Linked DNA regions of Homo sapiens. The protein of the gene in region 2 purifies or fractionates together with the protein of the main gene of each other region. This does not show direct contact. Each region holds a gene or a part of one and is shown on either strand. Other genes may lie near its edges.

Region 1 (2,785 bases), on a different chromosome or scaffold from region 2:
ATTATACAAATGTAAACATGTACAAGTTTCCTAGTATTTCATGGGGTTGCTGCTCTGCCTCTAACAGTTCAAGCACATGTAGTTCTAAGATCAGATTTGTGCCAGTGTGCGTTGTGTCATTAACATTTTTCCTGCCAAGGTTAAAACAACCAAATATAAACTGAAAACAAAATAAAAAGCAAGGTCTCCTTTGCATTCAATCACACTGATATTCAACATAAGATGGCATGTCACTAGGCAAATCATTCAAACTACGGTTGGGAGGCACTTTCTAAACACTGAGAATTTGAGAACAAGGAATTTAATGGTAGTGCAAACCTCTCTGTTCACTGTCCTCACAACAGTATCCATCTTCTCATGAATTAAAAAGTCATTAATTTTTTTTTTTTTAATGGGAAAGCAGTTTCAAGATAAAAAAGTATTGCTATAAGTTATGGTGAATATCCGTATCTCCGACTTCAACCCTTTCCCACCAGTGTGAAAAGTGAATAAAGACAGCAAGAGTTTTTAGAAAGTTAACTTATATTAAAAAAGTATATAAACAATTTCAATACTACAAAGTAGTATTTCAATACAAAGCAGTTCAAATATTAACTGTTCTTTAAACTGTTAAACTTTATTATAAATTAAAATTTCTTTACAAAAAAATTGCACATAATATTTGACCACTCTTAGGTTCTGATGCACTGGCATTTGCAATAGTTTCTTTAATCTTCAAGTTAAACAGTCTCGGCAAGGAGTCCAGAACGTAGAAAGGGTAATAAACAACCCTGATAGAGCATTCAAGTGCAACTAGCAGACTTGTGGCCATGGCAGTTACACTTTCCTTAAGATGGACTGCTATAGTTTTAAATCCTGAAATGAAGAATCTCAAAAAAATTTAAAAAGGAAAAACTAAAAGGGACTGCCTGCTTTTTTTACTGTAAACACAGCCCTGGATATTAAATCCCAAACAGGAATCTCTCAGGCATCAGAGAGTGTCAAGTGAGTCAGGAATAACACAAAATAAAGGAATGGGGGAGAAAATAAAAAAAAACAAAGCAAAATTAAAATAAATGTCAGTCACTTTGAGGAACTATACTTACGTATATGATGTTATGAGAATCTGGCAGGGCCTAGAAGCAGGCCAAACAGGAAGTTCATTTATCCAACCGAAGAGGATCATGTTCATTGCTTCCGGTTTTGAGGACAGGATATTGTAGGGAACTTGATATGATCAATAACGCTTGTCTGCCTTACACAGACCTTAGCCAGGGATCAGCCTAATCTTGAAGAATCATTCAAATAATTTTGGCAATTATTATAAGGACTTAGAACTGACTGCACCCAGTGTTCAGTGATTCTTGCTTTCTGTTTTGTTACTGTTTAAATTTAAGAGCTCATTTAGGCTGACTCCAATCTCTTGGCACTTGGAAACTAGTTTTCTCAGGTTATCAGTTTTACCTCCTTCTGATGCTTCAAACAAGAGTTGCTGTAAAAGACAGGGAAGCATAGAAGTAAGACTTAGCTAGAGTTTGAGCATTACCACATCAATGGATATGGCACATGCAGAAAATTTACAGGAAAACATCGAGATAAAATAAAAGATAAAAAGCATTACATCTTTCCACAGTGATGCACAAAGAGGTAACTTCTGTAAGGCTCTCTGATATAAACGGTGGACCTGTAAGATAGATATACACACAATTCCATCAGAAAATATAATGAAAAACACCTTCATAATTCCATCTGTTTAAAGAATGGTAATTCACAATAACATCTGAGACAAAATGGTTATGCTGAGTTTTGGAGTTTCCGAATATTTGGTACTCTTAAAATGTTAACTACTTTTGTTTCCCCACTTGGTTCTTAGTGTGCATGAAATGTTAACTTCTGTGCTTTAATTCTTTTAAATTGAGAAGTCAACAAAAGAGACAGAAAAACTTTTTAAAAGTGACCCATCTGAGATTCAACCATGGCTTACCTCTCTTTGTCCCTTTAGAACAATCTCAGCAGCAATGGCTCTAAGAGAAAAAAAAAAAAAAAGAAATATAGAAAAAGGAAAAGAAAAATTTATATATCTTTGAACAAAATGAAACACCACCACTGGCAGAATACTGACTGTGGGAATCTGAGTACAAAACTTCCTGAAAGTTAACAGGCTAAACTTCCAAGGAGGAAAACCTATAGTGAAAAGAAAAATTCAACAATTTTTATCAACTTTACAAGAAAAAAGCAGACCAGTGTTTTGAACATAAATAACGTTCACAGGAGAAAAAAAAAACAACAACAACAACAAAAAAAAAACACCTCATAATTACTAGTCAAAAATACCTAGCACTAACACCTTTAAAAGAAAGAAGAAATCAGACTACAACAGGTGACACACCACCATTTCAAGAGGTGGTCTTAAAATGTCTGTAGCAGATTTGTTTGATAACAGTACTGTCACCTAAATGTTGTCCTTCAAAGAAAATTAAAAGTCTACGCTTTTTGCTTTTAGAGGCTATTCAATGAGTACTCACTCTCATTAAACCTCAGTAAATGCTAAAAACAAATCTAAATTAAGAATAGCAATCTGTCCAGGAAAAAAAAAAAAAAAAATATATATATATATATATATATAGATGTCATTTCAGATTTACCTGTCTGGAGCAAACCTTATAAATAAAAGCAATAGCTATAAAAACATGTACATGATTGTTGCATTACATTTTCCAGGTGGCCAGGCATGTTGGGATATTATATGTAAACATCTTGGCTTGAAGTTTCAGAATCTGAACATTGCTTTCTTCCCATTCATGTT
Region 2 (7,159 bases):
TCTAGTTTATTTGTGTAGAGGTGTTTATAGTATTCTCTGATGGTAGTTTGTATTTCTGTGGGATCGGTGGTGATATCCCCTTTATCATTTTTTACTGTGTCTATTTGATTATTCTCTCTTCTTTATTAGTCTTGCTAGTGGCCTATCAATTTGGTTGATCTTTTCAAAAACCAGCTCCTGGATTCATTGATTTTTTGAAGGGCTTTTTGTTTCTCTATCTCCTTCAGTTCTGCTCTGATCTTAGTTATTTCTTGCCTTCTGCTAGCTTTTGAATGTGTTTGCTCTTGCTTCTCTAGTTCTTTTAATTGTGATGTTAGGGTGTCAATTTTAGATCTTTCCTGCTTTCTCTTGTGGGCATTTAGTGCTATAAATTTCCCTCTACACACTGCTTTAAATGTGTCCCAGAGATTCTGGTATGTTGTGTCTTTGTTCTCATTGGTTTCAAACAACATCTTTATTTCTGCCTTCATTTTGTTATGTACCCAGTAGTCATTCAGGAGCAGGTTGTTCTGTTTCCATGTAGTTAAGCGGTTTTGAGTGAGTCTCTTAATCCTGAGTTCTAGTTTGATTGCACTGTGGCCTGAGAGACAGTTTGTTATAATTTCTGTTCTTTTACATTTGCTGAGGAGTACTTTACTTCTAAATATGTGGTCAATTTTGGAATAAGTGTGATGTGGTGCTGAGAAGAATGTATATTCTGTTAATTTGGGGTGGAGATTTCTGTAGATGTCTACTAGGTCTGCTTGGTGCAGAGCTGAGTTCAATTCCTGGATATCCTTGTTAACTTTCTGTCTCGTTGATCTGTCTAATATTGACAGTGGGGTGTTAAAGTCTCCCATTATTATTGTGTGGGAGTCTAAGTCTCTTTATAGGTCTCTAAGGGCTTGCTTTATGAATCTGGGTGCTCCTGTATTGGGTGCATGTATAGGTAGTATAGTTAGCTCTTCCTATTGAATTGATCCATTTACCATTATGTAATGGCCTTCTTTGTCTCTTTTGATCTTTGTTGGTTTAAAGTCTGGTTTATCAGAGATTAGGATTGCAACTCCTGCTTTTTTTTGTTTTCCATTTGCTTGGTAGATCGTCCTCCAGCCCTTTATTTTAGCCTATGTGTGTCTCTGAATGTGAGTTGGGTCTCCTGAATACAGCACACTGATGGGTCTTGACTCTTTATCCAATCTGCCAGTCTATGTCTTTTAATTGGAGCATTTAGCCCATTTACATTTCAGGTTAATATTGTTATGTGTGAATTTGATCCTGTCATTATGATGTTAGCTGGTTATTTCGCTCATTAGTTGATGCAGTTTCTTCCTAGCATTGATGGCCTTTACAATTGGCATGTTTTTGCAGTGGCTGGTACCAGTTGTTCCTTTCCATCTTTAGTGCTTCCTTCAGGAGTTCTTGTAAGGCAGGCCTGGTGGTGACAAAATCTCTCAGTATATTTGTCTGTAAAGGATTTTATTTCTCCTTCACTTATGAAGCTTAGTTTGGCTGGATATGATATTCTGGGTTGAAAATTCTTTTCTTTAAGAATGTTGAATATTGGCCCCCACTCTCTTCTGGCTTGTAGAGTTTCTGCCGAGAGATCAGCTGTTACTATGATGGGCTTCCCTTTGTGGGTAACCTGACCTTTCTGGCTGCCCTTAACATTTTTTCCTTCATTTCAACTTTGGTGAATCTGACAATTATGTGTCTTGGAGTTGCTCTTCTCGACGAGTATCTTTGTGGTGTTCTCTGTATTTCCTGAATTTGCATGTTGGCCAGCTTCACTAGGTTGGGGAAGTTCTCCTGGATGATATCCTGAAGAGTGTTTTCCAACTTGGTTCCATTCTCCCAGTCACTTTCAGGTACACAATTCAGATGCAGATTTGGTCTTTTCACAAAGTCTCATATTTCTTGGAGGCTTTGTTCATTTCTTTTTACTCTTTTTTCTCTAAACTTCTCTTCTTGCTTCATTTCATTCATTTGATCTTCAATCACTGATACTCTTTCTTCCACTTGATCAAATCGGCTACTGAAGCTTGTGCATGCGTCACGTTCTTCTCGTGCCACGATTTTCAGTTCCATCAGTCATTTAAGGACTTCTCTACACTGTTTATTCTAGTTAGCCATTCGTCTAATCTTTTTTCAAGGTTTTTAGCTTCTTTGCAATGGGTTCAAACATCCTCCTTTAGCTCGGAGAAGTTTGTTATTACCAGTCGTCTGAAGCTTTCTTCTCTCAATTTGTCAAAGTCATTCTCTGTCCAGGTTTGTTCCATTGCTGGTGAGGAGCTGCATTCCTTTGGAGGAGAAGAGGCGCTCTGATTTTTAGAATTTTCGGCTTTTCTGCTCTGATTTATCCCCATCTTTGTGGTTTTATCTACCTTTGGTCTTTGATGATGGTGACGTACAGATGGGTTTTTGGTGTGGATGTCTTTTCTTTTTGTTAGTTTTCCTTCTAACAGTCAGGACCCTCAGCTGCAGGTCTGTTGGAGTTTGCTGAAGGTCCACTCTAGACCCTGTTTGCCTGGGTGTCACCATCGGAGGCTGCAGAACAGCAAATATTGCAGAATGGCAAATATTGCTGCCTGATCCTTCCTCTGGAAGCTTCATCTCAGAGGGGCACCCAGCTGTATGAGGTGTCAGTTGGCCCCTGCTGGGAGGTGTCTCCCAGTTAGGCTACTCGGGGGTCAGGGACCCACTTGAGGAGACAGTCTGTCCGTTCTCAGATCTCAAACTCCGTGCTGGGAGAAGCACTACTCTCTTCAAAGCTGTCAGACGGACATTTAAGTCTGCAGAACTTTCTGCTGCCTTTTGTTCAGCTATGCCTTGCCCCCAGAGGTGGGGTCTACAGAGGCAGGCAGGCCTCCTTGAGCTGCGATGGGCTCCACCCAGTTCAAGCTTCCTGGCCACTTTGTTTATCTACTTAAGCCTCAGCAATGGCAGACGCCCCTCCCCCAGCCTCGCTGCTGCCTTGCAGTTTGATCTCAGACTGCTGTGGTAGCAGTGAGCCAGGCTCCGTGGGCGTGGGACCCTCTGAGCCAGTCACGGGATATAATCTTCTGGTGTGCCGTTTGCTAAGACCGTTGGAAAAGCACAGTATTAGGATGGGAGTGTCCCAATTTTCCAGGTACCGTCTATCATGGCTTCCCTTTGCTAAGAAAGGGAATTCCCTGATCCCTTGTGCTTCCCGGGTGAGGTCATGCCTCGCCCTGCTCTGTGGGCTGCACCCAGTGTCTGAGAAGCCCCAGTGAGATGAACCCGGTACCTCAGTTGGAAATGCAGAAATCACCCATCTTCTGCGTTGCTCATGCTGGGAGCTGTAGACTGGAGCTGTTCCTATTCGGCCACTTTGGAACCTCCCCCAAAACTTTAAATATTACATACATGGTGCTTGTTCAAAATGCTTTTACATGCATTTAATATACGGACAACTGTTTCATGCATAACTTTTTATCAAATTACAGCCGTGGAATGACAAGTTACAAATGTTAAGACAATGCTCAATCGCTTATACTACACTTTCAATGAACAGTATGTACAGTTTCTGTTAATGCCTTTATTTTCTATTATGTTTGTTCTGATTGCATACATTGAAATGCAATTTTACATTTATTTGAAACTAATAAAAAATTTGGGCTTGTATTTTGCACATATTTTCCCCATTTTTCTACTAATTCATTTTTACTGTATTTTATAGAAGTACCTTTTACTGACAGATTGGAAAAATAAAGAACCCATTCTTCCCCACGGATAATCTAATAAAGAACCTGTTCTTCCCCACGGATAATCTGGGAAGCTGCTCTAAGAGGCTCATCTAGAGGCAGACAATAAAAGGGTAGAAAGAATGAGGGCCCTGAAAAAAGCTTCTGGGAAAGTAAAAACCCGAACAAAGTTTCGATAACTAAGATTTTTTTCCTGGTTAAATACACTCAACCTGTATTTGGGGTGAGTGTTAGCCGGGTACAAAGGTAGACAAAAGTTCCGAGTGCCGCCGCAATCGTCTCCCACAACATGGGTCTGAGCTACTCAAAATGAGATTTGCCTTTGGAGAAGAGTTAAGGAGCAGGGGGCGTGGCGAGCAGCGTGAGATCATCGGGAAGCGCCGCTCGTGGCGGGGGCAGAGCCGGCGCGTCATTGTCGTCATCGTTGCCCGACCGCTTTCCGGGAGACTGGAGTCGAAGGCCGTGAGGTATTTTTCTAAGGTGTAGTTTCAGTTTTTCTCCTGCTCCTGTTTAACTCCGCTTTTCCTCTCCTGGGATTCCCCTGTCATCCTCTGGGCAGACTGAGAAAATCGGAGTTTGGCTGCGTAGCCTTCCAGGAATGCAGTCTCTCACAGCTCTTCGTTGGGGCAGCATTGTTGGCAGGTCCCCCACTTCCGCTTGTTTTGGGGCTGCTTGCAGGCTTTGGCTTACCCCGGCCCCTCATTTCTCTCTTTTGCTCCGGTCTCTCTCTTTTTCTTCGTTTGTTAACCACCCCCTTCTCAAATCTTGGAAGACGAAGAAATTAAAAACAAAAATCAAAAAACATTGAAGTCTTCACAATTTTCAGCTGTTTTCAATCTTGCTTAGGGAGAGAGGCTAAAGTGGAACGTCTAGGGGAGTAACTTTACTGTGTTAGCTCCGTTTATCATTCACATTCACAGACTGCCTGCTGCTGCAGTATTAGCTCATCTGAGATAGTGGGCTAATTTCGACCTTTAGCTGAAATCTGTAGTGGGTAATCCAAGAGAGCAGTTTTTCTTGATGACCCGGATAAGTTCAGTGTAACTCAAACTTGTTTCAAAATAGCTTTAATGTCCTCAATGTTTGCTGACTACAGTTCAGTTTTGGCTTGATAAAGATGTATTTGTCGCAATGAGATGTTTGCTATCCACTTATTAACCTATTAGGACTGTCTGATGGTGGACTGAACCAAGACTTAACCGTGATTTTTTAAAAAATTAAATTTAAAAATTTTGTGGGTACATAGGTGTATATATTTATGGGGTACACGAGATGTTTTGATACAGGCATGCAATATGTAAGAATCACATGGAAAATGGGGTATCCATCCCTTCAGGCACTTATCCTTTGTGTTACAAACAATCCAGTTATACTTTTAGTTATTTAACTCTGTATTTTTGATTCAAAAACAACAGATTAGCCCTATTGAAGTACAGAGAAATGTTTGTGTTTGGTGGAAATGATAGAACTCATTGTTTTGTTGAAAGATAGTGACAAGTGTGAATAACGGTTTTTCAAAATAAAATTCTCAGTCAAAAGATACTACAGCTGCCTTCAGTTAGCTGTGTTGTATGTATCACAGTTCAAAAGTAATGTAATTTTTTTCTTAACTGCTTTTACCTTTTCAAATGGCTCTTCATATGTATTATCTCAGCTACTGTTTCCAAAGTTGACCCTTCAAGCATGGCTCTAAATAGTTCACATTGGATTAGAGTATTTGGTAATTTTCACTTTTAGTAAAATACTATCTAATGTATTGAGTGCTAACTGAGCCAGGCCCCGTTCTAATGGCTTTTATCTAGTTTATTTAATCTGTGCAACAACACTATATACTCTTATTTCAGAAATAAGATAATTGTAATAATCAACTTCCATATGTTTTGGAAGGTAATTTTGCTGCTTGATTGCTGTAATTTTGGAAATGCTTTGAATTAAACTTTGAATAGAAGTGAATTTAATTTAATGTAATTGTTCATCTCAATCTTGAGCAATATCCTCGTAATTTATATACTCTCCTATTAGACTTTGGGATAAATTTATTTTTAGATGTTAATATATTTTTTAGAAAAGGAAGAAGTCTATATTTACTCAGGAATTGTACTGTGGGACTGAAGGAGAGTTACAGACAACACTAACATGGAGTCACTGTTTGCCCAAGACAGCAATATTTATTGAGAACTTGTGTGTACATTTCATTGTTATTTTCTCCTAAGATAATGCAGTGCGAAAAAGTCATTACAGTAATTCATTACAGTAATAGAATTCTGGTGCAACAACAGCAAATGGCTCTCAAATTCCAAAAAACAATCATGTTGGATTTGTTCTTTGGCTTAGTTCATAACTGTGTATAATTATTTGGTGTAGAGATGGGAAGAGCCCTGGAATGTACATTATCGTATGTTTGTTTGGATCCATGTGGTGACTTTCTAGTATCTGTAAGCTCAAACTGTAATCTGATATTAAGAGTTTCCAAAATTACGTCTTAGGTTACTTTGATTGGTTTTAGTTAGTAAACAAATAGTTGCTAACTAACTAATACATGACAAGACATTATGTTAGTGATGTGGAGTTCAAAATGTGCCTCGACATGAATCTTCCCTTGAGCAATAGCCCAGTGAGTAAATAACCAATGGAAAGGTAGGAGGAGAGGAGTGACATGATCTGACTTAGGTTTGTTTTATTTTATTTTATTTTACTTTATTGTCTTTTGTTTTCTTTTGTTTCCTTTCCTGCCCTGCTCTGCCCTTGCCCGCCCTGCCCCACCCCATCTCGCCCCTCTTTTCTTTTGGAGTCTCACTCTGTTGCTCAGGCTGGAGTGCAGTGGCACAATCTCGGCTCACTGCAACCTCCGCCTCCTGGGTTCCAACGATTCTCCTGCCTCAGCCTCCGGAGTAGCTGGGATTACAGGCACCCGTCGCCATGCCCAGCTAATTTTTTGTGTTTTTAGTAGAGTTAGGGTTTCACCATGTTGGCCAGGCTGGTCTCGAACCCCTGACCTCAGGTGATCCGCCTGTCTCAGCCTTCTAAAGTGCTGGGATTACAGGCGTCAGTCACTGCGCCCAGCCTGACTCACGTTTTAATAGAATCTTCTCTGGCTGCTGTGTTTAAGAATAGTTTGCTGTGGGGTGGGGTAGGTGAAAACCAGGAGACTAATCACGGAGGTGTTGTAGTTCAGATGAGATGATAACATCTTAACTGGCTGGAAAGAAGTGAAGGTGGAGAAGCAGTTTAATTTTAGATGTATTTTCTAGGAAAAGCAAACAGAATTGCTTACAGATTGAAAGTGAATTGTAAGAATAAGGTTATTGTCAAAGTTTGGGGCTTGAGCAACTAGAAGAAGGGAATTGCCATTAACTGAGAAGTAGAAAACTGTGGGAGGGGCAGGTTTGTGGGAAGATTCGGAGTTCAGTTAAGGACATGATAAGTTTTTGATGTCTGTTAGTCATCTAAGTGGA
Region 3 (7,809 bases), on a different chromosome or scaffold from region 2:
CGAGATCACACCATTGCACTCCAGCCTGGACAATAACAGCAAGGCTTAGTCTCAATAAAAAAAAAAAAATACATTTTAGGCCAGGCATGGTGGCTCACACCTGTAATCCCAGCACTATGGAGGCCCAGGTGGGAGGACTGCTTGAGGCCAGGAGTTTGAGACCAGCCTGAGCAGCATAGGAAGACTCCTGTCTCTATTTTCTTTTTTGGGACAGAGTTTCCCTCTGTCACCCAGGAGGCTGGAGTGCAGTGGCGCAATCTCAGTTCACTGCAACCTCCGCCTCCCAGGCTCAAGTGATTCTTGTACCTCAACCTCCAGAGTAGCTGAGATTACAGGTGCGTGCTACCACATCCGACTAATTTTTGTATTTTTAGTAGAGATGGGTTTTCACCATGTTGGCCAATCTGGTCTCAGAACTCCTGACCTCAACCAAGCGAGGTGGCTCACGCCTGTAATCCCAGCACTGTGGGAGGCTGAGGCAGGTGGATCACAGGGTCAGGAGTTCAAGATCAGCCTGGCCAACATGGTGAAACCCCGTCTCTACTAAAAACCACAAAAATTAGCCGGGCGCGGTGGCACGCACCTGTGGTCCCAGCTACTCAGGAGGCTGAGGCAGAAGAATTGCTTGAACCCGGGAGGTGGAGGGTGCAGTGAGCCACGATCACTTCACTGCACTCCAGCCTGGGCGACAGGGCGAGACTCCATCTCAAAAAAAAAAAAAGAAAAAAAAAAAAAGAACTCCTGACCTCAGAGGCCTCCCAAAGTGCTGGGATTACCGCTGTGAGCAACTGCACCCGGCCTCTTCTTAATTCTTACGTTCGAAGAAACTTTAGGTATCTCAATTCAGCATAAGCGCTAAGCCTGAGGGAGGGCCTGGGAAGGTCCTTGGTTAAGGCCGTATTTCCTGGGAAGCCCAATTTGCCCTTACACGGAAGGTATGCTTAGTTCCAGGAGAAACTGCCCTGAGGACTGGAGAAGTTACCAAAACAGAACTTGCCTCTGGCTCCAGATGAACTGCCTGTGTTTTGCCCGAGCACAAGAGTCTCTCCCCTCTCACCTTCTTGAAGACGTGGCTCCAGCAATTCTCTCCCCTGTTGACCCCACAACAATCTACAACTCCTGCCCCACTTATCTGATCCTCTTACAGCAGAACTCCTGAACAGCTGCCTCTTCTTCCTTTTCTGTGACCCCACCACTCCATTGCGGCAGCTCAACATCGTCACCACTGACCTCCAAATGATCAACCCTCCCATGACCCGGCTGTCAGTAAGGCTGAAACAGCTGGTCAGCCCTCACATCTCAGACATGCTCTTTTCTTGGCCCCAGGTCACCACCATCTCCTGGTTTCCCCCTAACTCTCTGGGCGTTCCTTCTGAGTCTCCTTTGCTAGCTTGTCACATGTCTCTGACTGCTCAAGTTGGAAGGCCTAGGGCTTGGTCCTGGGACCTCTTCTCTTTTCCATCTACACTCACTTCGTTCAGGCAATAGCCTGAAATACCATCTATATAGCCAGAGAGTTCCAAATTGCCTATGTCCAGCTTGGGTCTCTCTTCTGATTTCCAGACTTGTACAGATCTGGGCAGAAACCTTAGTTATGCCTGAATCTTTTTCCTCGCACTCAAACCAAACTATACGTAAGTTTTGTCCGTATTACTTTCAAACTACATCCAGAATCTCATCACCTCCACTACTCCTGCTCTGGCTGGAGCCACCATCACCTCCCTGTTTTCCCCCATACTCCCCACAATCAACACAGCAGCCAAATTTTGTTAAAATGTATTGGGGCTGGGCGTGGTGGCTCATACCTGTATGAGCACTTTGGGAGGAGGATTGCTTGAGCCCAGGAGTTCAAGACCAACCTGGGTGACATCGTGAGACGCTGTCTCAATTTTTTTTTTTTTTGAGACAGAGTCTTGCTTTGTCGCTCACGCTGGAGTACAATGGCACGATCTCGGCCCACTGCAACTTCTGCCTCCCAGGTTCAAGTGATTGTCCTGCCTCAGCCTCCCGAGTAGCTGGGATTACAGGCGCCCGCCACCATGCCTGGCTAGTTTTTGTATTTTTAGTAGAGACAGGGTTTCGCCATGTTGGCCAGGCTGGTCTCGAACTCCTGACCTCAGGTGAGCCACAGGTCTTGGCCTCCCAAAGTGTGGGGATTACAGGCGTGAGCCACCGCCCCCGGCCTCCCGTCTCAAACGTTAAAGAGAAATATTCTTGGAGTTAATCTACTTCTGAGAGTTATTTAGCTAGGAAAAGGGGATATTTGCTCTATAGGTAAGACTTGCCCTAATCTTTTTTTTTTTTTTTTTTTTGACTTGCCCTAATCTTAGGGATATTTACTTGTGTGGAGAGATGCAGTGAGGTAGCGGTGGGGATGTATTTCTCAACCCAGCGCAATGACATTATCTTCAATTTGAGGAGTATTTACGTGGGTGAAAGATCCGCCACAGTCCACAGTATGCAAATAGACAGGTTTGCTTCAGTCCGGGATGCAAGGACCTAGAGGGTGTGTGTGTGGGGGGTGGGGGTGGGAGGGTGGAGGAGGAATCGAGTTAAGGGGGATATTTACCCTGGCGAGGTGATTTTCCCTATTCTGAAATATCAATTCTTGGGCGGACAGTCTGCCCCTCCTCTCATTCTCAGAGATAGTTACAAAGATGGAACTATCTTCTCCTTTCTAGTCGTGAGGGAGAGATGTGTGTATCCCTGCGTATTTAGTAGTATTCAATCGGACAAGAAATCATGCATCAACGCAGGAGTGACATTTACCAGCTGGTATCGTGAGGAGGTGGGCACTCGGTTGCACAGTACACGGTAGTCCCTCTCCAAAAGAAAGACCTGGGTGAAGTTCTTACCTTGCAGGAAGGAAGCAGAGCCATCTGGCCGCGACAGCAGGTTCTGTTCGCAGGCAAAGTGCCGGAGGCTGCAGCCAGGACCCCGAGGGCTGGACCCTGTTCCATTTTCAGCACGGATTTTGGCGTCAGTATGCGTCTCCTCCTCCATCGCGCCGAGCCCACGTGCGGCTGCAGTTGTCACTTCCGCCTGGCAGCGCGCGCCGCAAACAGGCTGCGTAACCAGTGCGCACGCGCCGGGCTGGGCCATCCTCCTGGGCGTCCGCACGTGGCTTAGCGTTTACCAACAATCTGGCTCCGCCCAGTCCCACCTCCTAACTCTGGCAACGCCATTGGACATTTGGGAACAGAAGGCAGGCCTTGGCATTGATCCGCTTTACTCTGGGCCCCCGGGCCCTAAATCCCTGAGGCCCTGGTCAGGTTGCCCTCTTCTTTGCCTGTTACAGGAGTAACTACAATGAGGCGATTGGAGAAAATTTTGGGTAGATAGATTTTTTTTTCTCCAAATCTCTGTGCATTCTATCTACCACAGAACGGGAAGAAGATGGTTTTCTTGTCAGATGGTGCTGGAGTTTGCGTCAGGCACATAAAGAGGCAGCCCCGAATCTAGCCTACGTGAGTGCCGGACCGCTGAGTGGTTGTTAGCCAAGATGGCGGTAGCGATCGCTGCAGCGAGGGTCTGGCGGCTAAACCGTGGTTTGAGCCAGGCTGCCCTCCTGCTGCTGCGGCAGCCTGGGGCTCGGGGACTGGCTAGATCTGTGAGTACCTGGGCCCCAGGCGGTTTTCCCAAAGGGGATTAGGGATGTAAAGGCTATCTTCAGAGTGTGGGGTCCCTGAAGGATATGAAGGAAGGGCTGTCACAAAAGGGAAAAAGAGTGGGAGACTCCTTGGAGAAGACACCGAAGGGAAGATCTGCCACTTCCTTAGGAGACGAAAAGAACTTCCACTTCTTTAGGAGAGGAAAAAACCCGTTTGCAACTTCTTTGTGGGCCCTGAGGGAGACGACTTGAAGAGAGAGATGGGGGTTCCTTATTAGCTGCCACTGGTATTCAGGGGAGGCTCCTTGGAGGAACAGGGGAAGACCGCAAGACCTTCTCCCTCAGGGTTTGGAGAATGAAACTGACTTTGTAAGGGAGGGACTTTCTTCTGGGCAAAGATCCCTCTTCAAGAAGAAGAAAGAAGAGAACAGGTCCCTGTCACAGGCTGCATAGGGCCTTGTATTTCTTTGCTCCTTTGCCACAATTCTGATTTTAAAATGAATTGTGTAAAAAATTTGTTTGATTCCTGTGTCTCTTGATCGAATATCAAGACAGAGAATTCGTGTGTTCTGGACACTGTACAGAGGAGACGATTAATATTTGTTGAATTAATGAGGGGAAAAAAGGAGGGAGAGAGGTACAGACAGGGCACTTTGCCCACATTTCTTAGAAACACTTGAGAAGGCTTTGTTTCTTGTCAAAAGGGTCACAATCCCTTCAGGTGGATGCTGCTAAGGGCAAGATTACACTGCAAAAAACCTAGGTGGAAGCCTATCTTTAGACGGGGAGAGGCAATGGGTTGCAGAAGAGCTTTGAACTACAGTTGACAGATAGGAGAGTAGTGGTTACATGGGTGGATGCATGTCCTTGCTCTGCCGCTTTCCACTTGTGTAGCCTTGGCCAACGGACTGCACTTCTCTGGATCTATGGAGCTAATTTTCCTCTCTAAAATATTAACAGTGGCCACCTCATAGGGCTGTGAAAAATCAATATGTAAAATGCTAAGGACTGGACCTGGCACATCCTAAGGGCAATAGGAATGTTGATAGTGAGGGTGGAGGGAAGGGACAGAAACTAACCTTGGAGATGGGGAGAAGAAAGGGGTGACCTTGGGAAGGCCTGGATTGGTGAGGCCCTGGGGAAAAAAATCTGAAAAGATATTGTGAGGTTGAGTCTGATCCTCTGATCCCCAATCCATAAGGAGGGGAAGATGGAATCTGTAGAAAGAAGCTCTGGGTAGGGGAACAAACGGGAGGAGGGTGAAGAAGATGGGCCAGGAGTAGGACGTAGTAGGTATCTAGGAACGGAGTCACTTGAAACAGGTAAATACAGAAGGGCTGCAGGAGCAAGGTGTGGGTAGGGCAGTCTCTTGCCTTTGGGCTGGAGACCTTTTCACTTTTTTTTTTTTTTTTTTTTTTGAGCAGTTCATATCCTCCACAGCTGATCTCAGTCCCAGGGGCCCATTGGCTGGGCAAGTGGGGCAGGAGGTGGGCAGGACTGGGGCAGGCTAGGGAAAGGTCATTTATGGCTGATTAAATCTTTCTCTCCTGTCTCAATCTCTTGATTACCTTTCCTCTTGCTTCCCCTACTTCATTTTTGGTGGGGAGTGGGGAGGGAAGAAGTCCCTACTTTTTATTTATATATATTTAAATTTGTATTATCTTAAGAGTTATTGTTTTTTCCCCTTTATTTCTCCCACCTGTTCTTTCTCTCTTCTTCTTTCTTTCCTCTCCTTCTCCTCTCCTCTCCTCCCCTCTCCTTTTTCTTTTCTTTTCTTTTTCCCTTTCCTTTCCTTTCCTTTTCTCTTCTCTTTTCTCTCTCTCTTTCTTTCTGTACCTCTCTTTCCTTTTTCTTTTTTTTTCTTTTTTGAGACAGAGTTTCACTCTCTCGCCTAGGCTGGAGTGCAGCAGCATGATCTTGACTTACTGCAATCTCTGCCTGCCGAGTTCAAGCAATTCTCCTGCCTCAGCCTCCCTAGTAGCTGGGATTACAGGCATGCACTATCACGCCTGGCTAATTTTTGTATTTTTGGTAGGGACGAGGTTTCACCATGTTGTCCAGGCTGGTCTCGAACTTCTGGCCTCAAGTTCCGCCTGTCTTGGCCTCCAAAAGCATGAGCCACTGCGCCTAGCCTTTTCTTTTTTTGAGACAAGGTCTCACTCTGTCACCCAGGCTGGAGTGAGTGCAGTGGTGTGATCATGGCTCACTGCAGCCTCAACCTCCTGGGCTCAAGCAATCCCCCCACCTCCACCTCCTAAGTAGCTGGGACCACAGGCACGTGCTACTACGCCTGGCTAATTTTTAATTTTTTTTTTTTTTTTTGAGACGGAGTCTTGCTCTGTCACCCAAGCTGGAGTGCAGTGGCACGATCTCGGCTCACTGCAACCTCCACTTCCCAGGTTCAAGTGATTCTCCTGCCTCAGCCTCCCAAATAGCTGGGACTACTGGCGTGCGCCACCATACCCAGTTAATTTTTGTATTTTTAGTAGAGATGGGGTTTCACCATGTTGACCAGGCTGGTCTTGAACTCCTGATCTAAGGTGATCTGCCCGCCTCGGCCTCCCAAAGTGCTGGGATTACAGGCATAAGCCACTGTGCCTGGCTGCGCCTGGCTAATTTTTAAATCTTTGTAGAGATGGGGTTTTGCCATGTTTTCCAGGCTGGTCTTGAACTCCTGGACTCAAGCGATCTTCCTGCCTCAGCCTCCCAAAGTGCAGGATGACAAGCGTGAGCCACCTTGCCTGGCCATATTATTAAATTATCATGAGTTTAAGTTTAAGTAGCCACAAGTGGGCTGGGTGCGGTGGCTCATGCCTGTAATCCCAGCATTTTGAGAGGCCAAGGTGGGCGGGTTGCCTGAGGCCAGGAGTTCAAGACCAGCCTGGCCAACATGGTGAAACCCCATCTCTACTAAAAATACAAAAAAATTAGCTGGGCGTAATGGCGTGTGCCTGTAGTCCCAGCTACTTGGGAGGCTGAGGCAGAAGAATCGCTTGAACCTGGGAGGCGGAGATTGCAGTGAGCCGAGATCGCACCACTATACCCCAGCCTAGGTGACAGAGCAGCCCTCTGTCTCAAAATAAGATAGCCACAAGTGGTTGGTGGCTGCCACATTAGATGGTGCAGGGTTTTTGTTTTGTTTTGTTTTTTGTTTTTTCGAGGTGGAGTTTTGCTCTCATTGCCTAGGCTGGAGTGCAATGGCATGATCTTGGCTCACCACAACCTCCTCTTCCTGGGTTCAAGCGATTCTCCTGCCTCAGCCTCCCGAGTAGCTGGGATTACAGGCATGCACCACCATGCCTGGCTAATTTTGTATTTTTAGTAGAGACAGGGTTTCTCCATGTTGATCAGGCTGGTCTTGAACTCCCGACCTCAGGCGACCCACCCACCTCGGCCTCCCAGAGTGCTGGGATTACAGGTGTGAGCCACCATGCCTGGCTAAGATGATGCAGTTTTATCCAGGTGGAGATGAAGAAATAGTCAGGGAAAGGTTGAGAGGCTGCATATTGTAGACAGATTGGATTACTGGGTTCACTGGGGAAGATTGGATTAGAAGGAGGAGTGGGGCTGCTTTACTTGTCCCCGACTTCTTGCCCCTGCTCTGCCCACTCCTTCATTGAATACCCTGCTGCCCTGCAGATGTGTTTGCCTGATTTTCACCTCCCTTCCTGTCTCTGTTATCATAGCAGACGTTTTAGTGCTCAGGGAAAGGAGGAGGAAGGAAACTCAGATTGTCAAGGAATTGTGAGTCAGTTTCTCAGCCACTACCCCAGGCCTGGGCTTGGCTAAGTCATTTCACCTCTCTGACCCTAGCTAGTGGGGTGAATAGAGTCCCTACCCTGTTGGAAGTCAGGAAGCCCCTGGAGCTCGCTCTGTGCTAATTATCGGTGACTATTTCTGTGACCCAGCTCTTCAGGGGCAGCCTGTCTGGGGGTTCCAGTGCCCTGTGCAGTATCTCCAAGTGGTAGGTACTCAGTGTATGTATTAGTCCGTTTTCAGGCTGCTAATAAAAACACACCCAAGACTGGGTAATTTATAAAGAAAAAGAGGCTTAATGGACTCACAGTTCCACATGGCTGGGGAAGCCTCACAAACATGGCGGAAGGCAAATGAGGAGCAAAGTCACATCTTACATGGTGGCAGGCAGACAGAGTGCTTGCAGGGGAACTCCCCTTTATAAAACCATCAGATCTCGTGAG
Region 4 (7,035 bases), on a different chromosome or scaffold from region 2:
AAGCAAGTGAAATATTTCAAAACTTACCTCTTTTTGTATTTTAATTATCCAATTTTCATTAATGAGGATAATTTTCAGGCTAAAACACACCCACAAAATTATTTCATAAATTTCGCAGATGAGAAACTACTGCTCAGAAAAAGCTGGACTTGCCTAAAGCCACAAATACCATGGCAAAACTCCAGTTAGAAAACCCTTCTCAGTGGGTCTCACATTCCTGCACATTTTTTGAGTGAGGCACTAACTGCCCGGTTGCTCTGGACTATCTTTGCAAGGATATCTGCATAGCGAGCAGCCTTGAAAAACAGTCTTCCTCTAAAGCGAAGGGCAGATTTGCTTACTGTCCAGCATAATACAGATGCCTCTCTTGGGGCCGAAGGCAAGTCTGCTTGTGGTCCGTTATCCAAGGTTCCAGTTTTCTAAGCTCAGGAGATCTCAGCTATGATGCAAATCCACTGGGTGCACAGCATCCACCTGGGCCACTTCACGCCATCCCTCATAGGAGTTGGGGACAAAAGAGAAATGACGCAAACTTGATGCTTGTGCTGCTTGCTGTACAGTAAGTCCTTTGTTTCTGATGGTGTTCAGGAGACACTACTCCCAAAATATGGCATCTTGGCATACTGAAAATTTTACACTGGAGGAATCTGAAAAATGACGTGCAGGTAGGATTTTCTGACTGTCCCCTGAAGCAGGTCATAAAAGCATCTCACATAAGAGGTGCCCTCCCTACACTCAGAGGAAAGCAACATCCTTATCTCAGAAGAAGGGACAGAGAGAGGAATCTGAACAAAAGACTTGCTAAGTTTCTCCTGGCTTATTACTCTTCGTTCATACCCCTTGCTCCCATCATATTTCTTCACAACTTTCCACTCTTCATCAAAGCTAACATAAAAACACTCAGGTTCAACCAGTTCTTCGGTATTCATTTTCTTATGAAGGCTCCTGTGTCACCTAAAACTTTTGTGAAATAAAAGTGTATACCTTTCTCTTTGTTAATCTGTCTTTTGTTACAGGGACCCCAACTAATGAACTTCAAATGGGTGGAAGGAAAGGCTATTGTCCCTCCCCTACATCTCAGACCCAGAAGGTTCCTATCTTCCACCAGCATCAGTGAAAGTGTGGCAGGCTAACTTGTTAGTTTCAGGTCCCTATAGCTTCTGACTCCAAACAGACCACAAAACACAAGTATAAGATGTACAATAGCCAAAAATACTTCTTAAACAACTTGCTACGGCAAAGGAGGAATTAAACTGCCTATACTTGCACACTCTTTCTGGACCATATCCTTGGGGAAAAAAACAATAAGGCAATAGATAGCAAAATCTTTCATCTGGTAAATTTCACTCCTAGGAATTCACACTATATCGGGTTCCCTGGAAACAGACTCTGAGACAGACATATATGCAGAAAACTTAGCAGGCAGTGTTGTTCAGCAGATGCCCTTCTAGGAAAACAGAGAAAGAAGGATTGGGCAGAGGGAGAAGATAATGGGCAATGTGGCTACACTAAGGCCTCAGCCACATATGAGAGCTCTGGAGTCAGGAATGCCCTTCAGTTGTTCCAAGTTGAGGCACAGCAGCTAGATCATCATTCCCCTACATGGTCTAGCCACTGGCTAAAAGTGTCCCCTGTGAGGCAGTGTTAACACTGAATAGCCCTAATTATCTTCACTGAATTACAGACTGATACGGCTGACATTAAAAATGGGAAAGTCGAGACTTTCAGAGCACAGACACATGCAATCTCCAAATTCACAGAATAGTTAAGACAACACTAGCAAAAAAGGATACACAAACATAAGTGAGTAGAAAGGAATGGGTGTACTTCATATATTCAGATATAAGGAAATACACACAATGGTGACAATCACTGTGCTTTATGCCTGGTGTTATGGTGACTGTTTTACATATATTACCTCATCTACTTCTCGGAATGTACTGGACAGGTACTATCATCATACCCAATACACAAATGACACAAAACAGGTTAAGTAACTCACCCAAGGTGACAAGTAAACAACTGGCGGAGCTGGGCATCAAACCCAGGTCTGCCTGACTTCAGAGCCCATGTGCTTAATCAACCAATCCATTCCATGATCTCCCTATTTAGAGTGTTAAAAACAACAACTCAATACAACACGTATACCAAGGACATGTCATCCATTCACCCCTCCAGACCTACTTCCCGTCTTCACCTGTTTCTCTGGCCTGGGAGGCTGACTTGAACGTAATGCACGGAAGGGCTCCTTTGCTGCCAGGTACCTGGCTCCCTTGCTAGGATGACCTTGGGCTGGCCGTACCCGTGAATGGAGGTAGCAGCTCCTGTAAGGTGCTCTCTCTACACAACTTATCTGCAGATTCGGTAGCAGCTATTCCCCACCCACCCGTTGACTCTGCAAGCTCAGGTGGTAATCACTCCCACTACACATGCTAGGAGGTGCTGCACTGCCCCGAGGGGCCCCCCTATGCCCCACCCACACCTTGATAGTCTCTCCTCAGTCTGAGAGTGTCATCTTCTCCTGCCAACATCCTGAGCTGATATACACACCTATACATAAACAGGATGCTGAGTAATGGCAAAAAGGCATTATTTACCTTCCCAGAAAGAAATGTAAAGGTCATTTTCTGGGAATAATATGCTGTATTAGGGGAAAAATACTGGAAACAAGATAGAAACAGTCCTGCTCTTTAATAAACAACTGGAAGGAACACTTTGGCAAGTTTACTTAAGGCATAAAAGTAAATTATAGCTCCAGCAGCAAAGGTCCCTTCCTCCCTGTGACCCTGCCCCTGGCACTATCTTCTCCCTCCTCACCAACATCTTGCTTCCTCTGAGAAGCAGAGAAAAAAAGTACCTTCTCCCGATCCCTCCTGGTGGGACATACTTTCTATCTTTAGAGAAGGGTATCTAACCTTCAAACAATGTCCAGAGGTCAGCCAAATGAACAGGGGAATATAACATTCCAAATCAAAGCCCAAACATCAGGTACAGAATGGAAACACATAAATGTGCCTCAAGACAGTAAGCAGCATCTTCAGTCATTTGACCAAAGTTTAAGTAAAACTACCATACAACAGAGCTTACTAAGGTGAGGAAAGTATCAGGGAAAAATGAAAAATAGCTTCCAGAAGGATTCAGCTAAATTAATGGATGAAATAAATCCAACACTCCTTCATTCAAAATTGTTGATCAGGCACCAGCCAAGCTTAGGGGTGGGCCAGAAACTGTCTACCCCAGCCTTCAGCACTGACTAGCTGGGTGAAGCTGGGCAAGTTACCCTCCCTTAAGCTCAGTTCCTCAACTACAAAGTGACAGAATCATAGGAGGCAGTTCCTAAGTTTGCTACGAAGATTCAATAACTACAGATGTAAAGTGTTTAGCCCAGTTCCTGGTACACACTATAGATTCAGTAAATGTTAGCTAAAATGGATGGTATTACAAGTAGTAACAATTTAAAAGAAGAAACAAAAACTTCTGACCTGCCTTAAAATGCTCAACCTAATGAACTCTGTAACCGAAACAAAACTGGAGAGACCTGAAGTACACCCCTAATCTTTAGAACTTAAGGTGATAGAGAGAACATTACAGCTTCCCCAAAGGTCTGCTGTTACTATCAGAGATATGTGGGCTAGGTTCCTTCATTCAATGTAAAAAAGGACAAAATAGTGGCTGGGAGGGGGAGTAGTAAAAATGTATAAATCCATGTACAACTTCTATAGGTTTAATATTTTTTAGTTGTGCTACTAAATCAATAAACTGAACAGAAACAATTTCATGGGCTTTATGTCACCGGAATGATGAGTTAAATTTACCAGGAGTTTCCTTCTGAATGCCACAAGCATCATCAGTATCAATTTTAATAAACCTACTCTTTCTCTTTAAGCTCTGGCAAATCCAAGTACCAGTGCTCTTCACTAATGATTTTCTTTTCTTCTTCTTCTAGTTGTTTCTTGGTTTCTGAGTCCAGTCCCCTTTGCATAAACTGTGAAAACAAACAAAATCAATGTCAGAAACTTTTCCCATTTTAGAACTGAGGAAACCCCAAATAATTTTCTTCTTCTACTTGTTCTCCTTCATTTATCTATGGAACCCATCTCAAGATTGAGGGTTGGGGCAAGTGATCAAACGGTTTAGCTCTACCCTTCCAACTTTACACTAGACGATGAGGGCTTGTGTCAGGGCATGAGAAAATGCACAATGTATATTTCCTTCGGAAAACTTAAGGGCTAAGACACCACATTCGAAGGTCTTGTGCTCACCCACAGAGCCCACTGGCTTTGGCACCTGCTGATCTGGGGTTGAAATGCCCTTCTTATCCTCTTCCACCTGGCCAACTCCTCGCCCGTCTGACATAGGTAAAGCTACTAGACTTCTATGAGTGCCAGTAAAATCAGTGCCTCTGTCCTAAATGCTTCCATGGCTCCCTCCAATAGACTCACCACATCTGAACTTTCTGAGCATCTATCTTTTCTGGAGACCTTAAGGACTGGGTGTCTGGGTCATCTCCTTCATCTGTCCCAATATGATGACTGAAGCACAGTAAGAGCCCGATAAATGTAGGCAGAAGCAAAGGTACATCTATAAGTCTGCTCTTCGTTTTTATTTTTCCTCTGAAATGCTGCTAAACTCTTGAGCTGCTCTTATCAAATCTGCAGAAAGTTGACTCAAAATATGGCAGTAAATAACAGTCCTGCTGCCAGTCTCTCACTAGCATGAATACCTGTATTTCTTCAGGGAACAAGTGAACAAACTTAAGAGGCTAACCACAGCAACAAGATAAAATATCAACACTGGAGAAAATAAAATCAGAAAATACCCAGAAGCCTCCTAGCAGTTAGGTTTCAGCTTCCACTGGTTTCTATGTATCCCCCATTTCTTTCCCTTATTCAGGTCCGATATTTCTTTTTTATTTTTTTTTTTATTTTTTTTTTTTGAGACAGAGTCTCACTCTGTCGCCCAGGCTGGAGTGTAGTGGCACGATCTCAGCTCACTGCAACCTCTGCCTCCTAGGTTCAAGAGGTTCTCCTGCCTCAGCTTCTCGAGTAGCTGAGATTACGCGCCTGCCACCACACCCAGCTAATTTTTCTGTTTTTAGTAGAGACGGGGGTTCACCACTTTGGCCAGGCTGGTCTCAAACTCCTGACTTTGTGATCCACCCGCCTCGGCCTCCCAAAGTGCTGGGATTACAGGTGTGAGCCGCTGCGCCCGGCCCAGGTCCCATATTTCTCCTCCTTCTATTCCACCTTTTCCAAACATAAGCCTTTTTAGGCATAAGCACTTTAACAATGACTACTAAGTTAAATGAAAAAACCTTAACGTTCACGAATAAAATAGTCATGCACTGCAAAATGATGTTTGGTCGACGATGGAACCCATATATGACAGTGGTCCCATAAGATTACAATGCTGCATTTTTATTGTACCTTTTCTATATCTAGATATGTTTAGATACACAGACACCACTGTGTTACAACTGCCTACAGTATTCAGTACAGTAGCATGCTGTATAGGTTTGCAGCCTACGAACAACAGGCTGTACCATATAGCCTAAGTGTGTGGTAGGCTATACCATCCAGGTTTGCGTAGATGAACCCTATGATGCTCTCACAATGATGAAATCACCTAACAATGCATGTTTCAGAACGTATCCCTGTTGTTAAATCATGTGTTAAGTAACACATGATGGTGATAACATCAAGTGCTGAAGAGAATGTGAAGAAACTGATCACTCAAACATAGCTGGTGGGAAAGTAAATGGTACAGCCACTGTGGAAAACAGCATGGCAGTTTCTTAGCAAACTAAACATACACTTACCATATGACCCAGCAACCGTCCACGCAAAATGAGTGCGTGTAAAATGGTGAAATCTGCGTCAGCTCACTGTCAATGTCCTGGCTCTTTATCATATCCTAGTGTTGTAAAATGTTGCCGCTAGGGGAGGTGGCATGAAGGACGCACGGGATATCCCTGTACACTTTTTGCAACTTCCTGTGAATCTATCACTATTTTAAGTAAAAAGTAAAAGAAAACAAGTTTGCAGACTAGTGTTTTGCAGTCGTCATCCATTTTACCTGTGTGTACATCCTCATCCCAGGAAAGAACTGCAGTTTCTGGAATGTGCACGCTATACTTCCCAGTCCTTTTGCCTTTGCGACTTAACACGTTTCCATTTTCTGCCTGGCAAAATATTTACTCTTTTAAGCCTACAGTGTGTGTCCTTTGGTAAGACTTCCTGGTTGGCATTTGGCTTGGCTCTTCCTAGGTCTGCTCCTATAAAGAAGCACATTCTCAAGACAGCCTCATCAACACTGGAATATTGTTCACCATCGTGCTGCTTTGGTGTCTCCCAGGACTACGATTCTGAATAGACCATGACTCTTGTTCATCTTGTATCATTGGTACTTAGGCGGCACCCCTGGTACACAAAAGAGCTCACTCAGTGAAAGTTCTCTGAATGGAAATGAACCTAGACCTATCTTATTTTTCCAGATTCTCTTTCTGGGATGGTTTTCTTTAAATGCAGATGCCTCATTTCATCACTAATATTCCTCGTGGTAAAACTCATCAATACTGCCCAACTGCCCTTTTTTCTCCCATTTAGTCATGTACCTATTCTTTTGGTATACAACAGCCATATACATATGTTCTGTACACATAGAAAGGACAGAACTCCCTGTGAATATGAATCAAGCACCTCCAGACTTAGGTACAAGTTCGATTCTCCTACTCTAGAGCATTTCAGAACACATTCCAAAACTAGTGAGGACTCAGAGCAGGCATCAGCATAATACAGTCCTCAGGCTAGATGTCTGTTGTCGTCGATAAAGTTTTACTGGTACACAACCATGGTCATTCGGTCTTGAACAACACTGGCAGAGCTGAGTAGTTGTAACAGAGACTGTCTGGCTCATAAGACCAAAATATTTATCATATGGTCCTTTACAGAAAGTTTGCCAAGCCCTGTTCTGAGAGTCTAACAGTGCCAAAATCACAAATAAGCACCCTCTACAACCATTCCATACTGGAAGACC

The links.
Region 1: the proteins of C1D (region 2) and ZFC3H1 purify together in Homo sapiens (co-immunoprecipitation; 3 studies listed by BioGRID and IntAct, with this or other methods). This does not show direct contact.
Region 3: the proteins of C1D (region 2) and EXOSC5 purify together in Homo sapiens (affinity purification with mass spectrometry; 5 studies listed by BioGRID and IntAct, with this or other methods). This does not show direct contact.
Region 4: the proteins of C1D (region 2) and MPHOSPH6 purify together in Homo sapiens (co-immunoprecipitation; 4 studies listed by BioGRID and IntAct, with this or other methods). This does not show direct contact.

The regions. Positions count from the first base shown.
Region 1 is NC_000012.12:71,609,095-71,611,879, forward strand, and holds the end of ZFC3H1 (zinc finger C3H1 domain-containing protein), read right to left. Parts: coding exon 2,692-2,785; intron 2,004-2,691; coding exon 1,964-2,003; intron 1,664-1,963; coding exon 1,601-1,663; intron 1,472-1,600; coding exon 1,334-1,471; 3' UTR 505-1,333; downstream 1-504. UniProt on the Homo sapiens protein: Subunit of the trimeric poly(A) tail exosome targeting (PAXT) complex, a complex that directs a subset of long and polyadenylated poly(A) RNAs for exosomal degradation. The RNA exosome is fundamental for the degradation of RNA in eukaryotic nuclei.
Region 2 is NC_000002.12:68,059,970-68,067,128, reverse strand, and holds the start of C1D (nuclear nucleic acid-binding protein C1D), read left to right. Parts: upstream 1-4,124; 5' UTR 4,125-4,171; exon of another isoform or gene 4,172-4,184; intron 4,185-7,159. UniProt on the Homo sapiens protein: Plays a role in the recruitment of the RNA exosome complex to pre-rRNA to mediate the 3'-5' end processing of the 5.8S rRNA; this function may include MPHOSPH6.
Region 3 is NC_000019.10:41,394,326-41,402,134, forward strand, and holds the start of EXOSC5 (exosome complex component RRP46), read right to left. Parts: upstream 3,035-7,809; 5' UTR 3,004-3,034; coding exon 2,856-3,003; intron 1-2,855. Other genes in the region: BCKDHA (2-oxoisovalerate dehydrogenase subunit alpha, mitochondrial isoform 1 precursor), read left to right, coding at 3,503-3,610. UniProt on the Homo sapiens protein: Non-catalytic component of the RNA exosome complex which has 3'->5' exoribonuclease activity and participates in a multitude of cellular RNA processing and degradation events.
Region 4 is NC_000016.10:82,160,210-82,167,244, forward strand, and holds part of MPHOSPH6 (M-phase phosphoprotein 6), read right to left. Parts: intron 4,732-7,035; exon of another isoform or gene 4,443-4,731; intron 3,986-4,442; coding exon 3,873-3,985; intron 1-3,872. UniProt on the Homo sapiens protein: RNA-binding protein that associates with the RNA exosome complex. Involved in the 3'-processing of the 7S pre-RNA to the mature 5.8S rRNA and play a role in recruiting the RNA exosome complex to pre-rRNA; this function may include C1D.